Linked DNA regions of Homo sapiens. The protein of the gene in region 1 binds, or shares a complex with, the protein of each later gene. Each region holds a gene or a part of one and is shown on either strand. Other genes may lie near its edges.

Evidence for each region.
Region 2: THUMPD2 (region 1) and TRMT112 share a complex: the UniProt entries of both Homo sapiens proteins name them as parts of the heterodimeric THUMPD2-TRM112 methyltransferase complex.

Annotation. Positions count from the first base shown.
Region 1 is NC_000002.12:39,774,086-39,785,978, reverse strand, and holds the start of THUMPD2 (U6 snRNA (guanine-N(2))-methyltransferase THUMPD2), read left to right. Parts: upstream 1-6,720; 5' UTR 6,721-6,739; coding exon 6,740-6,865; intron 6,866-11,893. UniProt on the Homo sapiens protein: Catalytic subunit of the THUMPD2-TRM112 methyltransferase complex, that specifically mediates the S-adenosyl-L-methionine-dependent N(2)-methylation of guanosine nucleotides, most probably at position 72 (m2G72), in the U6snRNA of the major spliceosome.
Region 2 is NC_000011.10:64,315,597-64,322,193, forward strand, and holds TRMT112 (multifunctional methyltransferase subunit TRM112-like protein), read right to left. Parts: upstream 1,964-6,597; 5' UTR 1,931-1,963; coding exon 1,853-1,930; intron 1,770-1,852; coding exon 1,668-1,769; intron 1,552-1,667; coding exon 1,462-1,551; coding exon of another isoform or gene 1,411-1,461; exon of another isoform or gene 1,373-1,410; coding exon 1,265-1,372; 3' UTR 864-1,264; downstream 1-863. Other genes in the region: ESRRA (steroid hormone receptor ERR1), read left to right, coding at 111-370; PRDX5 (peroxiredoxin-5, mitochondrial isoform L precursor), read left to right, coding at 2,620-2,790, 4,138-4,272, 5,065-5,196, 5,269-5,307, 5,411-5,472, 5,990-6,095. UniProt on the Homo sapiens protein: Acts as an activator of both rRNA/tRNA and protein methyltransferases. Together with methyltransferase BUD23, methylates the N(7) position of a guanine in 18S rRNA.

The DNA.
Region 1 (11,893 bases):
TGTGTTTTGTTTGTTTATTTTACTGAAAGTTTGGACCACTAAAGATGGTTTAACCTGGCAGTGCCAGAAACAAATTTGAGCACTGAACATCCTTCTTAGAAGTTCTCAGCCAACACCCCACAGCGAGTCTCTTACGGCCAGCTCATCCTCACTGGTCTCAGCTTTGCACGATGCTGTTCCACAGGTTCCCCATTATCTGATCTTTCCCCCCCGTTAGGGTATTTCCTACCTCCTTTTGACTTCTTACGCAGAACAGTTTAATTATCTCTGTATTTCTCTGTTTATGACTTCAGAGCCTCACTAAACTCCATCAAAAAATTTTCGTAAACAGACTATTTTGTACCTAAGATGAATTCCAGGACCAGCTTTTAAAATTATTTTTCTTAACCTGGCTACATTTCGATTTCGAAGTTTATGAGACAGAAGTTCCATATCATCTAAACTGATCAGAGAGACAGAGCACCAAAGCCATACATAGTGATTGAAGGTGCAAATATTGTTACCTGTCTGTGATCTGAAAGCTCAACTGGCATCAAATAATTTCAGGCATTATGTCTTATTTCAAAGATGTTTTACGAGAGAATGAAATGATTGCCTAAGCCAGTGCTTCAGGTTGTATGCTTTTGTTTTGTATCTGTATTGTTTTTCTGTTTAGCCAAGTAATTCATACTCATTGCAAAAATTGTAACATTAAATATGAATATAAATAGTAAATTTTTAATTATTAGATTTCAGACTTTTTAAAAGAAAATCATTAGAGGATAGGCCTGATTATGTGTAGATATAACAGAGAACACTTTTTCAACGGTGCTAAAATCCATTTTTCAAAATCATGCAAGATATCCATGGGCAGCAAGTAATTATCACTCTTCAACAAAAAGAAAAATATAAAAAGACAAATATGTAATAAGTAAGTCTGCTTGTTCCATAGTCTACTCTTCCTTCATGCCAACGACAGGAGCAATACTGACTGAATAAAGCCAATGTTCTAATAAACTCTTCAGATTTTATTCTGCCAAATACCATTCATAATGAAGTAAGGTACTCTATTTGTGTTTTTGAGAAAATAAAAGCTAACCCTTTGTTGTTTTTATTTGCAGATCACATCTGCTTGAGTTTTGAGGGAATTATTTTTTTCAGTTACCACTAAGAAAATACACAAAATAAATGACCATCTACTAAAATGGAATAAGACATACAGGAAAATGAAAAGGATAAATATCAAAACATAGGTATCCTAGCTAATGTTGGACATTTCTGGGGCTTTCTTTGTACCAAGAAATAGAAAAAGTTAGGTAATAGCAAACCTCTAAGGAAAATAATAATTCATAGTCAATATTATCATGAATGCAACAAGAGAAAAGGAATATTAAAACAATAGTCTGAGGGAGGTGAACATAACTGCAAAAAGAAAATGGCTTTATTTAGTCACTACAGTTGATTCAAGTAAATTGAAGAAAATTGCAGATATAGTCATTCATTCATTCAACATATATATCCAAGAAATAATATCCATACTCTCTTCCAACTGGGGCATCATTAGGTCTATATTTTGAGTTTTATGAGCTCAAAATATATTTAAACAAAATCACATCAAACAGCCTCATGTCTTGAAATATGCATTAAATACATGCCACACTTTTCAGAAAAGACATTGGAAATAGTCAACTATACTTGTATATCAAAGTAATTTCATGCACTATAGATCTGAAGCAAAAATAACATATAAAAAAAGAATTATCTCTCCAGATCAGAGCATAAAGATTGTATCTTTTGAATTTTGATTCTACATTTAAACTAGTGCTATAAACACTAATTAGCAAATACTGTTTTAAAGACAGTATTTACATATACCATGAAATGTTCTGCTGAATTTTCTCCTTTTGATTGTATGTTCAAAGAAGCACCATTCAAGATGATTATTGTGTGTACTTAAGTGGTTTAAAGGATCAGTATGTGACCAATAGTTTTTTCCCAAATGGCTTGCACTTGCAGTCGTAAAAATATGTAGATTCTCTTTTTCACAATCTATACTGACTTGGTTGGAATGTGTCTGTCTGACAGATTCATGTGTCTGTATCTGTGGTTTTACCACAATACCATAACACAATTGAATTCCATAAAATTTATAAAATCCTACTCTTTCCAAGTTACTCTGTGGGGCTACGTGGCAGGAGTTCATCATACCTCCACAGTGCAATGCTCACAAATGAATGGGGGAAGAGACCAAGCTAATACAAATCACAGGGAGAGAAGCAAACCAAGCTAGCTGCTCCTACCTGGGAAGAGTGGATGCCTGTATCAATCAAGATTCCTTGTTGCAAGAAATAGATGCTAACTTTAACTGATTAAGCAAAGTAAAGCGTGCGTGTGTGTGTGTGTGTATGTGTGTGTGTGTGTGTGTGTGTGTGTGTGTGTGTGTGTATGACTCATTTGTTGGGCAGTCTGGAAAACCAATCTGGAAGCTAAGCTTTCAGAAACTGGCCTGACCAGAAAACTAACTGCTGCCACTACTACCACCACCCCCAGCAGTTCCACTTCTGCCTCAGGAACTCAATCCTGTTCATGAAGCTGTTCCTGAAGGTCAGACACCCCAACAATACCCCAGGAAGTAAAATGAATTGTGGAAAGAGCCTTTTCCCCCACATTGCTCATTTCTGAGTCACGTGAGGCTCACTGGTAATGTCTAGATCACATGACTATGCCCTGGTTAGCAAAAAGGCTCCACCTGTGGAGGTGGGTGGGGCCCATCAGAAGGATGATGCCCCAGACTTGGCAGAGATATGGTTTGGATTTGTGTCCCTGCCCAAATCTCATATCGAATTGTAATCCCCAGTGTTGGAGGACGGGCCTGGTGGGAGGTGATTGAATCATGGGGGCGGAGTTCCCCCTTGCTGGTCTCACGACAGTGAGTGAGATGAGATCTGGTTACTTAAAAGTGTGCAGCACCTCCCCATCCTCTCTCTTCCTCCTGCTCCAGCCATCTAAGAGAAGCCTGCTTCCCCTGTCCCCATGAATGTAAGTTTCCTGAGGCCTCCCTAGCCATGCTTCCTGTTGAGCCTGCGGAACAGTGGGCCAATTAAAACTCTTTTCTTTATAGATTACCCAGTCTCAGGCATTTCTTTATAGCAGTACAAGAATGGGCTAATATGGTGCTCAAAGGGAGATAAGAAACCAAAACCATGACAAAGGCTTACTCAGCTTCAGAATAAGCTCATTCATTCAACTTCATTAAGTGGCTACCGTTGCTGGGCCCAGTTGCTTTCATTTTATTCCCATATATGACACTGTATTGTCATCCTTTATATGCCCATCTCAGCAATTCAGCCCTGTCACCATTACCTCCCATTGATTTAAAAGTTTCTCAAAGGCTGGAACATTTAACTGGCACATTTGCCACAAACTCAACAAATATTTATGAATGAATAAATGAATGATAAAGGTATAAAATATTGCATAAAAGGGTACAAGAAAGGCAGGAAAGTACACCAGAGAAGATGTGGCATTCTAGCTTATCCTCAAAGAAAAAGAAAGAAAGGAAGAGAAGAGCGCTCTAGCCAAAGGGAACCATATAAGCAGAGGCCTGGGAGAAGGGAAGTAGTGGGCATTTTGAAGACGTTAGCACTTGAATTGCTTGGCATCTAGCAACGGTTCTTCATCTCATGGAGAGAAGAGGCCAAGGCTTGTCACCAACCCTACTCAACTGTACTGGAATACAGGAGAGTGGGGTGGCAAGCTTGACACTGGTGACTTCTCAGGTAATTCTGAGGAGTATTCCTGGGTAAGAAACATTATTTATAAAGTGTATAGGGAGGAAGAAGAGATAGTGAGGAAGAGAGGAACTAGAAAGGAAAGTTGTGAAGAAGTTTATTTTGGAGGTACTCCTATCCCCTTTGTGCTCTCACTTCTCTACTTCATTGGCCTCACTACATTGCCCTTATTCCTGTATCCTGCTTGCAAAGGCCCCTGCTGATAGGGCAGTTACAGCAATTCTCCTGAGAGGGGCCTCCTTAGTTGCCCTTTCATTTAGTTACTTTTTATTGGCATACATTTGAGAGGCCACCACAGGCAAGCCAGTGTTCTCGCTACAGATGCCCAGATGAAGTCATCCCATCCTCAAGGATTTCACAATCTATAGCACTTGCATTTTAATATATAAGTATATACATCATACACCTTTAAGAACTAAAAGAATTGCCAGTGGCACCAAAATAGGGAGCTATCTCAAAGCAAATATTCTTGTCCTAAATTCTTAAAACACCTCCACTTAAAAGTCTGTCCATTCTAAAATTGTTCCTGCCGACTTCCAATTTCCTACATGTTGAAATATGTAATATTCGAACAGTAAATTGCAGCTGGATATGCTAAATTTGTCTATAGGGATCCATAGTTTTCAGAAGAGACTTTTTTAAAGAAGAAGAGATGATGGAGAAAAGAGTACCTGAGTAATGGGGGAGAGAATTCCAGGCAACTCTCTTACCAGAAAACGAAACTAATTTCTCCCTAAAGAGGCAGAACTCCCCCATTCCATCGCACTGCAAGCATTTTGTGAAGGGCATTGGTACAGCTGACATACTGCAGCACAGTTCAAAAGGAACAAATGCACATGACTCCCACATATGAAACAAGAGTAGCCCCGACCTTGCTGACCAAAGGCTCCTGGAGGGGAAAAGACATCAGAAGAAAGAGGAGAAAGTAAGGGGAAGATCGATTGGCTCTGCAAAACTGCAGCCTCAGCTCAGCTGTGGTTTCACCCAGGCCAGCACACTGCTGGTCGGTGCTGGACTGAATAGGTCATTTCATTTTTTCAGCTGCCTTTGGTTGTACTGACATAACTGGGCCCCTACCCACCGCTCTACCGCATCTCTATCTACTCCACTCATATACTTTATGCTCTAATAACACTTAACCGCTATCGTGGCTTTCCTGTTCCCCACCCCCCACACGCCGTCTCATTTTCATCTGCTGCTTCTCCCTCTTACACATCCTTCATGCTGGACTCAAGAGCGATTTTGTCCAGGAAGCCCTCCCTGCCTCCTTTTTGTCGGTGCTGTCATAGCTTCCCGGGTATGTCCTCAGTGAGTCATTCAACTTCACCATCCTCTAAGCCCTTGAAGTCCAAACCCTTGCTTACCCATCTTTGAATCCTCAAGACAGGGTGGTGACTGGCGGAGAATAGGTGTTCAGTATTTGTTGAACTGAATGGAATGCATCCTATCTGCATACTTAACATCTTGGGCACAGAATGTAGAGAGAACTAAAGAGGGTTCCTGTCCTCCCCAGACAGACTTGACAGTCAGAACCCCAAAGTATAGAGAAGTTAAAATGAACTACGGCAGTAGCCCAGAAAAGGAAAACATGTGTCTGAGGGCAAGAAAAGAATTCATCAAAACGGTAGTGTGTGAGGGCTGGGTGCCTGTAATCCCAGCACTTTGGGAGGCCGAGGCAGGCGGATCGCTTGATCTCAGGAGTTCGAGACCAGCCTGGCCAACATGGTGAAACCCCTTCTCTACAAAAAATACAAAAATTAGCCCGGTGTGGTGGGGCTTGCCTGTGGTCCCAGCTACTGGACAGGCTGAGGTGGGAGGATTACTGGAGCTCAGGAGGTGGAGGCTGCAGTGAGCCAAGATCACGTCACTGCGCTCCAGCCTGGGCGACAGAGGGAGACCCTGTCGCAAAAAATAAAAAATAAAAAGCAGCATCAGAAGAGTCTTAGGACTGAACCTTGGAAAAGCTCATGTTATGTGACTCCATGAAGAATTTTTACTGTACGGCCCAGTAGAGCATGAGCTGGGTGGGGGCGGGGGTGTGTGTGGGAGTGTCGGGGGAGGTGAGGGAGTATCAGTTCTTCACCTTAACATCCCATTCTGAAGCACAGGACAGCCCCTTGTCAGAGACACACATGCATTTATCATTTCTGTATAACTGACTCAATATACAGCTACAGAGCTAATTTCACGCTGTTTATCTTGTAACATGGATTCTGTCTATGCTTCCCAAGTAATATTTTCATTTCCATTTTAAAATTCAGAGTTTAGAAAAATGCCTTCAAATACCGTTAGGAGAACCATTCAAATCAGGTGCCCAAAACTAGATGGCACATTGATTCATCTATGGCTGGATGGTTAACTAAGTAGTGCAAGAAATATGAGCTGTTTCAGAACGCAGACGTTTGTTAGAGAACAGGAACTTCTGCTCTCCGTCCTGGAGATTCCAACGTTTGGCCCGATTCTTTGTGAAAACAGACCAGGGCTCCTTCTATGAGAAGAGTAGAGGAGAGGAATGAAGGACAGGAAGAGGACGGAGTTGGGAGGAATGGAGGAAAAGGCATTATGTTAGATAGGGAGAAATCTAGGCTCCAGCCTCAGCTGTGCTGCTAACTCGCTGTCTCTTGACCTCTCTGGGCATTAATTTCCTCAATCTACAAAATAAGGCAACTGGACTGAATTATCAATTCTAACCCTTCCACCTGTGATTCTAACCCATTCTGGTGCCTAATCAAGGAGGGGACAGATGGTCAACCAGGAAGACCCATAGGGGCCACAGAGGGCTGATGCGACCCTCCCAGGCTCTCCGTCTCTCTCACCCTCTCCTTCCCCCTCCCTCTCCCCCTCCCCCTCTCCCTCTCCCTCTCCCTCTCCCCTTTGGCATCACACGCCCCTGCGCGCCGCCTCCAGGAGCGAGCCGCTCGCGCCCGAGGCCACGTGACCCGAAGGCGCGAGGGCGCGCCTGAGCCGCCATGTCGGAGGCGCGTGGAGAGCCAGGGTCCGGGCCTGAGGCTGGCGCCCGATTCTTCTGCACTGCGGGTCGCGGCCTGGAGCCGTTCGTAATGCGAGAGGTGCGGGCGCGGCTGGCGGCCACGCAGGTGAGTTGGCCTCGCTGCGCGCCTGGGGAGGTGGGCGGCCCTGTCCCTGCCCTGTTGCCCACCCCAGTCGTGGACGCGGGAAAGCGTCGCTGGCGCCCCTCTCTGTTCCACGCGACGGTCGCCGACCCCCGAGGTTGACTGGCAGGCGCTTCCGCTCCGGCCGAGAGAAGCCACCATTCCTTTCTTTCCTTGTATAGCAAATCCAGTTCCTCACTTCTCAGGGCTCAAGTTTTTAAGAGAGGTGTTGAGGCAAGTTATTTCCTGGATTCTTTAAAGTAGTAAGTAGTGCCTGTAATTAGAATCTGGCCTGTCAGAGTTAGAACCCTTCGCTCTTTAAATGCAAACATAATCTCCAAGTTCAGTTACCTGACTTTTTGTTAGTTTCTTGACAGTGATTGTATTTGACTACATAGGATTGTTGTGAGAATTAAATTATATAGCGTATGCAAAGTACACTTTAAACACGCAGTAAATAGCAGCCAGAAAAATAATATACTCTTGCAGGCCTCATAGTTATCTGTTATTGATTTCTGTGAAATGAACAAGGTTTTAAGCATCGGTTTAGGTTTTAGAATGTTGAAAACTGGTTTCTTGAAAGTAGGGGATGAAGGTATAATAGAAAAGGTATCTTGATGGGGTGTATGGGACACTGTGAGTGATGTACTCTTGGAAAAGGAGAGCTTCCTAAATGAAATTAACCCCTCCACCCTGGCAGCTCCTACAGTGTGGGAAGCCCACAAAAGGAGTTTCTGCAGTGAAAGGTTGGAGTCGTGAAGAATTATGTCAGTTTTGTTAGACTACCTGCCACTTGTGTTTTGGGTCACAGAATTTAATAGAGTATTGAATGTAGCTAATCTTAAAAAGCATCAATATATAATAACTACTGACATTTATTGAACATTTAATATGTGTCAGGCACATGTTCTTAGATCTTTACCCTATATTTATTTGCGTACTTTTCACAACAGCCCTATAAGGTAGGTGTTCCACATTTAACAGATGAGAAAAATGAAGCACAGGTAAGTCCGAGAATTTATTCAAGTCATGCAACTAGAAAATCGCAAAGATGGGATTCAAACCCGAGCTGGGAAATCAAGAATGAGTATATAATCATGTTCAAACCAGGCCCACTATATGACCATGACATAGGGGTGCGCTGGCTTGTTTTTTTAAATGCTAACTTAGAGTGCTTGGTATGAAAGAGAGAGAGAGCTTGGCCCAATTAATATGTAGGATTATTAGAAAAAGGAAAGACTCTCTGCTTGTTCTCCATCTTCTCTAAAGACAAATGAAATGGGGAAAACTTTATTACCAGGAAGAAAATTCAATTAAATACAGGGAAAACTTTTTGACAGTGGGAGTAATTAAATGCCAGTAGATTTGGGAATTTCCATATTCTGCTCTTGTATGTTTGAAAGATAGATAGGTCTGGAAATGGGATCTGAACAAATAATCTCTGAAATTCCACCCAAGTTGCTCTGATACAAAGTGAACTCTCAAAGTTAAGGCAATCCTGAAATAACAGTGATGACAACTAACATTTATTAAACACTTAAAATGTTAGACAAGTTATGTGCATGTTATGATTTAATCCTCAAAAGACTCCTATCTGATAGACTTTTACCTCCATATTTTACCAAAAAAAGAGAAAATTGGGACTTGTCTCTGAGTCTCTCTAGCTTTAAAGCCCATGTGCTTTACCACTAGGCTAAATTACCATGGGAATCTTCCCTGGAACATTGGATGTAGTTTATTTCTGTAACACCACGGTAGAGTACGTATGGTCTTTAGAATCAAAAGACCTGTGTGCAGATCTTATATATTCCTTTAGTGGATTTGTAACTTTGGGCAAATTACTCAAATTTCTGAGCCTCAATTTTCTTGGATGTAAAATAGAGATGATAGCTACTTTAAAGGATTACTGCAGTCCCTGAAATAAAGATAGCACAGGTAGCATGCTGCCTAACAAATAGTTGGTGCTCAATTTTAGTTCCCATACAATGAGTTGTACAGGAATACTTAAAACATTCTTTCAATGATAAGAGAGTGTTAGAAACTTTGGATCGCATCAAGGAAATTAACACTCTAAAATGTAAATTTACAAAACAGATTAATTCAAGAATGATTGTTTAAGAAAGTAATCACTTCATTTTAATGTGTTTTTCCAATTTTCATGAACATAAGAATCACTGAGGAAGCTTGTTGAAAATGAGTATTTCTGGGTGCCAGCCCCAAAAGGTTTTCTTTTAGTAGGGTGGCTGATAAGCCCAGGTGCTACCATTTTAACATGAAAACATGCTCCCCTCTCAGAGAACTCCCAACACACAGTTTGCAGTGGAAAATTTCCTGTGTATTCTTTTTAGCTTTTTATCATGGAGAATTTCAAAAATATACAAAAGTAAACAAAATAGTATGCCGAATCCAGCCTGGTATAGTGGCTCATGCCTGTAATCCCAGCACTTTGGGAGGCCAAGCCGGGCAGATTACCTGAGGTCAGGAGTTCGAGACCAGCCTGGACAACATGGTGAAACCCCGTCTCTACTAAAAATACAAAAATCCAGGTGTGGTGGCGTACACCTGTAGTCCCGGCTGTTCGGGAGGCTGAGGCACGAGAATTGCTTGAACCTTGGAGGCGGAGGTTGCAGTGAGCCAAGATCGCGCCACTGCACTCCAGCCTGGGTGACAGAGTGAGACTCCATCTCAAAAAAAAAAAAAAAAATAGTATACTGAGTCTCTATGGTGTAGTTTAACATGTTCCTCTATCCTCTGTATTTCCTGTAAGTTGGAATTCTGTAAGTTTTATCTAGAACTTGGTCAGATTCAGGTTTGATGTTTTTTCTCCCCTCTCGTTGTATGGCAAATTTCTTCATAAGTCCCTGGATGATGTTAAATATTTAATTTACATATCTACAAACACATATCACTTAGACTACTTTGAAGAAAGTAATATATTGAGAAAAATTAAGCTTTACTTCATAATGATGTTTAATGTATTATTAAGTACTGCTATTTATTGTAAGACTAGTAGTAGGATCAGTTATTTTAAGATAAAATTGAATGTTGTAGAGATATCTCTAATGTCAGTTCACCAGAAGAGTCCTGTCAGTTGATTCATTGATCTTTATAAACTCACATATCAAACACTATTAACACAGGTCCTGAATAGGCCACATAAATTTTTGTTTTTTAATGGTGGCATCACAGTCGAGGGTAATAGGGTAGAATTAAGCAGGAAGTCAAGTTATTCCATAGTTATTTTCATTTAATGGAATAATTGCATAAGGTTGCCTTAAAGATTTTCTGCATTCCCTTTAGATTGAATGCCTCTTTTTTTTTTTTTTTTTTTTTTTTTTGACATAGTGTTACTCTGTCGCCCAGGCTGGAGTGCAGTGGCGCAATCTTGGCTCACTGCAACCTCCGCCTCCTGGGTTCAAGCGATTCTCCTGCCTCAGCCTCCCAAGTAGCTGGGATTACAGGTGCCCAGCTAATTTTTGTATCTATAGTACAGACAGGGTTTCTGCTAAACATGTTGGCCAGGCTGGTCTTGAACTCCTGATTTCAAGTGATCCACCCGCCTTGGCCTCTCAAAGTGCTGGGATTACAGGCATGAGCCACCATGCCCAGCTGAATGCCCTTTTTACAAATTAAGTGAAACATATTTTTGAATTCCTTCTTCTAAAATAAACCAAAACAAACTCAAACAACACCTTAACCCATCACGTAGCACTTTCAAATTAATTCTGTAACTAAATGGCATCTGTAGAATTAGGAGACCTTTGGTACCTCCCTATATCATGATGTGTTTTTGCATAGATTTAAACTTTTTAAAAAAATCGTGACAGGATCAGGCTCTGTCACTCAGGCTAGGGAACAGTGGCGTGATCACAGATCACTGCAACCTTGATTTCCCCGGCTCAAGCAATCCTCCCACCTTACCCTTCTGAGTAGCCTCTTGGACTACAGGCATATGCCACTGTGCCCAGCTCATTTACTTTTTGTACCAACAGGGTCTCACCATGTTGTCCAGGCTGATCTCAAACTCCTGGGCTCAAGCAGTCCTCCCGCTTTGGCCTCCCAAAGCACTGGAATTATAGGCATGAGCTACCACATTCAGCCTAGATTTGAACTTTTAATCTTTGTGTTAAATTTGAATCCATGAATTTTAAAAGAAAGGAAAAATGCTGTTTAGATATGCTAGCAGATAATAGAGCTGTTATTAATCAAGGCTGTTACTTCATCTTCGGGAGTGTTATACATAAAACCAGCTGTTTTTAGATACTTGGTTATGATTTCATTCTAGATAGAAAAAAACAGATTGTATATATAAATAAATTTTCAGGTAAGAAACATGAGAATGAAATATTCCAAATGCCTTATTTCTCTGAGTGTTGTATTAAATATGAACAGTTACAAGCAGTAAAGAAAAAGAGAATTAGTAGCTTCAGCAGTTTTTGAAGTCATAAGCACCAAAATTCATTCTCCCTACTATTTTAAGGTATCATACCTATCTTCACAAAGAGTGAACTGTTTAAGTGCATTCACAGATAGGATTATTTGATTCTCACAGTGAGTACTATTTTACAATCTATTAAACTACAGTAAGTCCTCATTTAATGTCATCCGTAGGTTCCTGGAAACTGTGACTTCAAGCAAAAGGATGTATAATTAAATCATTTTTACCATAGGCTAATTGAAATAAACAAGAGTTCCTATAGCATATTTCTGGTCACAAAAATTTCACAAACTTCTAAATAGGTTATTTAGAACACTTCTGATAGTAAACGCTGAAATAACACTTCTAATGTTAAACATTGAAATAAATGTAATCTATACATACATTTAAGAAAGATTGATAAAAACAAGTAAGATAATTATTTATCCAACTGTTCCAGTTAAGTTATTCCAGGGTTTTCACTGGCCAGATCCTATCTTGGCAGCTCAGGGCACAAGGCGGGAACTAGCCCTGCATAGGATGCCATCCCATTGCCTGGCACACTCACACACACCCACATTTACTTGCACTGGGAC
Region 2 (6,597 bases), on another chromosome or scaffold:
CAAATCCTCGTTTGGCTCTTCCTTAGGCCCCATCCAGCAGTGCTCAAGATACGGGGAGTGCCCTTGCCAGAGATAGCCCAGGCCAACACCACATTCCTCTCTTCTTGCAGACTCTGTGCACATCGAAGATGCCGAGGCTGTGGAGCAGCTGCGAGAAGCTCTGCACGAGGCCCTGCTGGAGTATGAAGCCGGCCGGGCTGGCCCCGGAGGGGGTGCTGAGCGGCGGCGGGCGGGCAGGCTGCTGCTCACGCTACCGCTCCTCCGCCAGACAGCGGGCAAAGTGCTGGCCCATTTCTATGGGGTGAAGCTGGAGGGCAAGGTGCCCATGCACAAGCTGTTCTTGGAGATGCTCGAGGCCATGATGGACTGAGGCAAGGGGTGGGACTGGTGGGGGTTCTGGCAGGACCTGCCTAGCATGGGGTCAGCCCCAAGGGCTGGGGCGGAGCTGGGGTCTGGGCAGTGCCACAGCCTGCTGGCAGGGCCAGGGCAATGCCATCAGCCCCTGGGAACAGGCCCCACGCCCTCTCCTCCCCCTCCTAGGGGGTGTCAGAAGCTGGGAACGTGTGTCCAGGCTCTGGGCACAGTGCTGCCCCTTGCAAGCCATAACGTGCCCCCAGAGTGTAGGGGGCCTTGCGGAAGCCATAGGGGGCTGCACGGGATGCGTGGGAGGCAGAAACCTATCTCAGGGAGGGAAGGGGATGGAGGCCAGAGTCTCCCAGTGGGTGATGCTTTTGCTGCTGCTTAATCCTACCCCCTCTTCAAAGCAGAGTGGGACTTGGAGAGCAAAGGCCCATGCCCCCTTCGCTCCTCCTCTCATCATTTGCATTGGGCATTAGTGTCCCCCCTTGAAGCAATAACTCCAAGCAGACTCCAGCCCCTGGACCCCTGGGGTGGCCAGGGCTTCCCCATCAGCTCCCAACGAGCCTCCTCAGGGGGTAGGAGAGCACTGCCTCTATGCCCTGCAGAGCAATAACACTATATTTATTTTTGGGTTTGGCCAGGGAGGCGCAGGGACATGGGGCAAGCCAGGGCCCAGAGCCCTTGGCTGTACAGAGACTCTATTTTAATGTATATTTGCTGCAAAGAGAAACCGCTTTTGGTTTTAAACCTTTAATGAGAAAAAAATATATAATACCGAGCTCAAAAACACTGTGTTTGGTGTCATTGGGTCAAGGGTTGGGGATACACACGGCAGAATTCGGAAACAGGGTATAGATCAACAAAAATACACAGTCATAACAAGAAAAACTGGCGCCTGGCACAATCAACTCTCAGTTTCCTCTTCACTCAGCAGCATGTTGGGGATCCCGCGGCTGATGGGGAACATACGTCCAGATTCCGGGCACTGCAGGGTGCCCTCTATCACTTCCACCTGCGGGCAGGGAGGGACAGAGCTGAGCACTGGCAGCCTCAGTGCGGGAGGCAGGTGGCCCGGGAAGCAAGTGATGGGCCGCTTCTCACCTCCAGCAGCAGGTGGTGCATGGTCCTCAGAAACTCCTCATTCTCCTCATATCCCTCAACCGGCCCTTTCGGCACCTGGATCAGACGCAACTGTGGGCAAGAGGCCAAAATTATCTCCGGGCATCCCGAACTCCCGCCTCAGCCCGGCTGAGGTGTGCCCGCCCCGCATTCCCCGGGATATGCTGGGGCGGGGTAAGGATCCTCACGTTATCGGCCGCCTCCAGGAACGCCGACCACTCCACTTTAGGTATCATACGCGCCACGAAGTTGGGGTTGAATTCCACAGGGCAGATACGGACCTCGGTGGCCTGCAGGGCGGAGGAGTTTAGGCAAGCACTGGACCCCGGCCCACCATCCCGCCCGAAAAGGGAAGACTGCCGCCGGCGGGTACCTGGAGGCGCAGGGGGAAGCCACGGGACCCCACCCCCCGCACATGCGAGCTCAGCAGATTGTGGGTAAGCAGTTTCATGTCGCCGCACAAACTCTCGCCAGGCCGGAACCGGAAAAAGGTCGTCCTCCGCTGCCTCACTTCCGGGGATGCTCCTCTCGATGCTATTGGATAGCCAGGAGAACCGGAAGTGGCGAACTTGCTGGAACTTCTCGTGTTTGTGGGAGCTGAGGTAGGTAGGTGAAAGACCTGTCGGGTCACGCGCCGCTACCGGAAGCGTCTCAGCAGGAGGTTCCTACGGCGCACGCCCAGCTTTTTTTTGCCACAAATTCTTCGTAAGATGCAAATCATATGCAAAATAGCTGCAATGCAGGAGCTCTCGTTGAATGCAAAATAAACACATTTTACTCCTACACAGGCGCCTAACACCGTCGTCCTCTGTATCCCACTTTCGGTTAAGGGGCAGAAATACCGCCCTATCTGTAAATTAGGCCCATGGAAGCCGAGCCGCACCTCATTCCTATATGCAAATTAGCTGCTCCAGTGCCGAAAGCTCCGCCCCATTTGTAGTTGCGTCGGCTGTCCAGCACCCAGTGCAAACGAGGCGTGGGTCCCGGAAGCTCTGTTCTGCGGGTGGCCGCTCGCGCCTGCGCAGTGGAGGCGGCCCAGGCCCGCCTTCCGCAGGGTGTCGCCGCTGTGCCGCTAGCGGTGCCCCGCCTGCTGCGGTGGCACCAGCCAGGAGGCGGAGTGGAAGTGGCCGTGGGGCGGGTATGGGACTAGCTGGCGTGTGCGCCCTGAGACGCTCAGCGGGCTATATACTCGTCGGTGGGGCCGGCGGTCAGTCTGCGGCAGCGGCAGCAAGACGGTACAGTGAAGGAGAGTGGGCGTCTGGCGGGGTCCGCAGTTTCAGCAGAGCCGCTGCAGCCATGGCCCCAATCAAGGTGACCGCTGGCCCGGCCGGGCCTGACATCCCCCACTACCCCCATGGCAATCCCCGTCCCGCTAGTCTGAGAGTATCGCTTTATTTCCTGCCTGCCAGACCCCTCCCCTCCGCCCGCCCGGCTCATCCCTTCAGAAGGCCCTCGTGGCTGCCCACCTTTCTCGCCAATCGTGGGGGCCTCACCTCCCGGGACAGTCCCGAGGCATTGTGTTTTTTGTTTTTTGTTTTTTTTTGAGACGGAGTCTTTCTGTGTCGCCCAGGCTGGAGTGCAGTGACGCAATCTCTGCTCACTGCAGCCTCCGCCTCCCGGGTTCAAGCGATTCTACTGCCTCAGCCTCCTGAGTAGCTGGGACTACAGATGCGAGCCACCACGCCCAGCTATTGTATTTTTAGTAGAGACGGGATTTCACCCCGTTGTTCAGATTGGTCTCGAACTCCTGACCTCAGGTGAACCCCCCCCGCCCCCCCCCGCCTCGGCTTCCCGAAGTGCTAGGATTACAGGTGTGAGACACCACTCCCGGCCTGATTTCCCCTATCTTCTGAAACAGCTGTCCCTTAGCGCCCCCGCGGGGGCTTACCCCATCCCACTCCATGACCTCCCCTCCCCCCATGGCGAATTCCCACCTTTCTGTCTTTCACTCACTTCCTGGAACCGTCCCCAGGGCCTTGGACCTTCCCCCTTCTCCTCCCAAACCTTGTGAGACCCCATTCCCTTTCTACTTCATCCTGCTCTCAACCTTTGGGCTCCTCAGAGGCCCTCACCTCTGACTCTCTCTCCCTACCCACTCTGGTCCCATGAAGCCCTCAAGTACTCTGGGGATGGATCCTTCCCCCTTCAAAAGATTCCTTCTTTTGTTCTACACCTCCTGGGTGTAGGGGCCTGGACACCCTCCCCCAACGTTCCACCTGCCGCTGCCCTTCCTCTTCCTCCTCCTGAGGGTGGGACCCTCAGACCTGGCCAAGATCCTCTCCCTCCATGTTGTCAGGGACTCCTCCTCACCCCCAAATACAGCCCTCTAGCCCCTGTCCATTTTATTCCACTCCTTTCCTGTAACCTAGACAGCATGTTATGCAACCCTTTGCGACACATGGGGAAACCTTCCCTCCCTTTCTCTGTTGTCACCAATGGCCCCTTAAGAGGAGCAGGGCCACCTTGAAACTTGGAGGATATGGGGTAACCCAGTGGGAGCGGGCAGGGAGGGCCCTTGGAAACTGACAGGGCTGGAGTATCCTGCTGGGTTTCAGCCCCGGTTCCTGCAGGCACAGCTGCCAGGCTCTCTGTTCACCTTCCTGCCTCTGGTTTGCCCCGGCTCCCTCACCCCCCTTACCCTGGAGTCCTTCCTTCTAGGTGGGAGATGCCATCCCAGCAGTGGAGGTGTTTGAAGGGGAGCCAGGGAACAAGGTGAACCTGGCAGAGCTGTTCAAGGGCAAGAAGGGTGTGCTGTTTGGAGTTCCTGGGGCCTTCACCCCTGGATGTTCCAAGGTGAGGCCCTTCCCCTTCTGAAGATCAGGACCTGGGATCTTTTGTGTTGCTCTTAAGTCCTCCACATAGTCCTGATAGGACTCCTAAAAAGCATTTCAGTGCCATCACAAAACAAGTAGAGCTGGGTAGAGCTGGGCGCGGTGGCTCACGCCTGTAATCCCAGCACTTTGGGAGGCCAAGGCGGGTGGATCACGAGGTCAGGAGTTCAAAACCAGTCTGGCCAAGATGGTGAAACCCTGTCTCTACTAAAAATGCAAAAAAATCAGCCGGACATGGTGGCGGGCGCCTGTAATCCCAGGTACTGGGGAGGCTGAGGCAGAGAATTGCTTGAACCCAGGAGGCGTAGGTTGCAGTGAGTGGAGATCGTGCCTCTGCAGTCCAGCCTGGGTGAAAGAGCGAGACTCCGTCTCAAAATGAAAAAAAAAAAAAAGAAAACAAGTAGAGACTGCAAAAAGGGAACAGTACCAGGAATGTTGGAGAAAAACATACTACAATTAAATCCAACACCCCTGTTGGTCCTGCTAAATGACAGGCACTGTGGAAGGTGCTTGGGACTCAGATAAATAAGACATAGATCTGCCCATGGAAAGTTCACGTCTGGACCATAAGGCATTAGGTTTCATTCTGAGCTTCCTAGTGGCCAAGGCAAAAAGGAAATAGAATGGTTTAGACAGCTCTCATTGTCTGATCAAAGGTGTTGAGGCAGAGCACTGAGGAGGGCCTGGAGATAAAGGGTGGGCTGGGGGTCAGATGCAGTTATCCCTTTGCCGACCCTTTGTTCCCCTTCCTCAGACACACCTGCCAGGGTTTGTGGAGCAGGCTGAGGCTCTGAAGGCCAAGGGAGTCCAGGTGGTGGCCTGTCTGAGTGTTAATGATGCCTTTGTGACTGGCGAGTGGGGCCGAGCCCACAAGGCGGAAGGCAAGGTGAGGTGAGGGGCCTGCAGGGAGTCAGGACCAGGTAGGATATTCTTCTTGTGACCTTTACTTTCTCTGCAGGTTCGGCTCCTGGCTGATCCCACTGGGGCCTTTGGGAAGGTGAGTGTTCCCCTGACCGCCACAGGGACATGGCAGTGCGGGGAGCAGTGGGGGCCCTTAGCCTCTTCAAGGATTTCTGACACTTTTCTCTGTCTCTTCTTAGGAGACAGACTTATTACTAGATGATTCGCTGGTGTCCATCTTTGGGAATCGACGTCTCAAGAGGTAAAAGTGGAGAGTCCTCTGTGGAGAGAGTCCTCTGTGGGAGAGAGTCCTCTGTGGGAGAGAGTCCTCTGTGGAGAGGGTCCTCTGTGGGAAGAGTCGTCTGTGGGGGAGAGTCCTCTGTGTGGGAGAGTCGTCTGTGGGGAGAGTCCTGTGTGGGGAGAGTCCTCTGTGGAGAGAGTCCTCTGTGGGGGAGAGTCCTGTGTGGGGGAGAGTCCTCTGTGGGGAGAGTCCTCTGTGTGGAGAGAGTCCTGTGTGGGAGAGAGTCCTGTGTGGGGAGAGTCTTCTGTAGGGGAGAGTCCTCTGGGGAGAGAGTCCTGTGTGGGGGAGAGTTCTCTGTGGGGAGAGTCCTCTGTGTGGAGAGAGTCCTGTGTGGTGGTGAGTCCTCTGTGGGGGAGAGTCCTCTGTGGGGGGAGTCCTCTCTGGAGTTCTCTTGGGCCCCTGGCTGTTCACTGCCTGTCTCCATGCCCAGCCTCCAAGCCCAGGCTGATGCAGCTGGCTGGGCCCCTCTTTCCGGCAGGTTCTCCATGGTGGTACAGGATGGCATAGTGAAGGCCCTGAATGTGGAACCAGATGGCACAGGCCTCACCTGCAGCCTGGCACCCAATATCATCTCACAGCTCTGAGGCCCTGGGCCAGATTACTTCCTCCACCCCTCCCTATCTCACCTGCCCAGCCCTGTGCTGGGGCCCTGCAATTGGAATGTTGGCCAGATTTCTGCAATAAACACTTGTGGTTTGCGGCCATCTCCTTGGTTATGAATGGCTGTTTCGCTGAGCGCCAGGCATTCTGGCATCATCACAGACTGGGTGAGAATGGTGAGGGCGCAGATGGGCTGAAAGGGAGAATGTAGGGGGTCCTGCTTAATTAAGGGGGAGCTAGGGAGGGCCTTTCAAGGGAAGTTTTTTTTTTTTTTTTTTTTTGAGACAGTTTCACTCTGTCCCCTAGGCTGGAGTGCAGTGGCATGATCTCGGCTCACCACAACCTCTGCCTCCCAGGTTCAAGCGATTTTCCTGCCTCAGACTCCCCAGTAGATGGGATTACAGGTGTCTGCCACCACGCCCGACTAAGTTTTTGTATTTTTGGTAGAGACGGGGTTTCACCATGTTGGCCAGGCTGGTCTCGAAC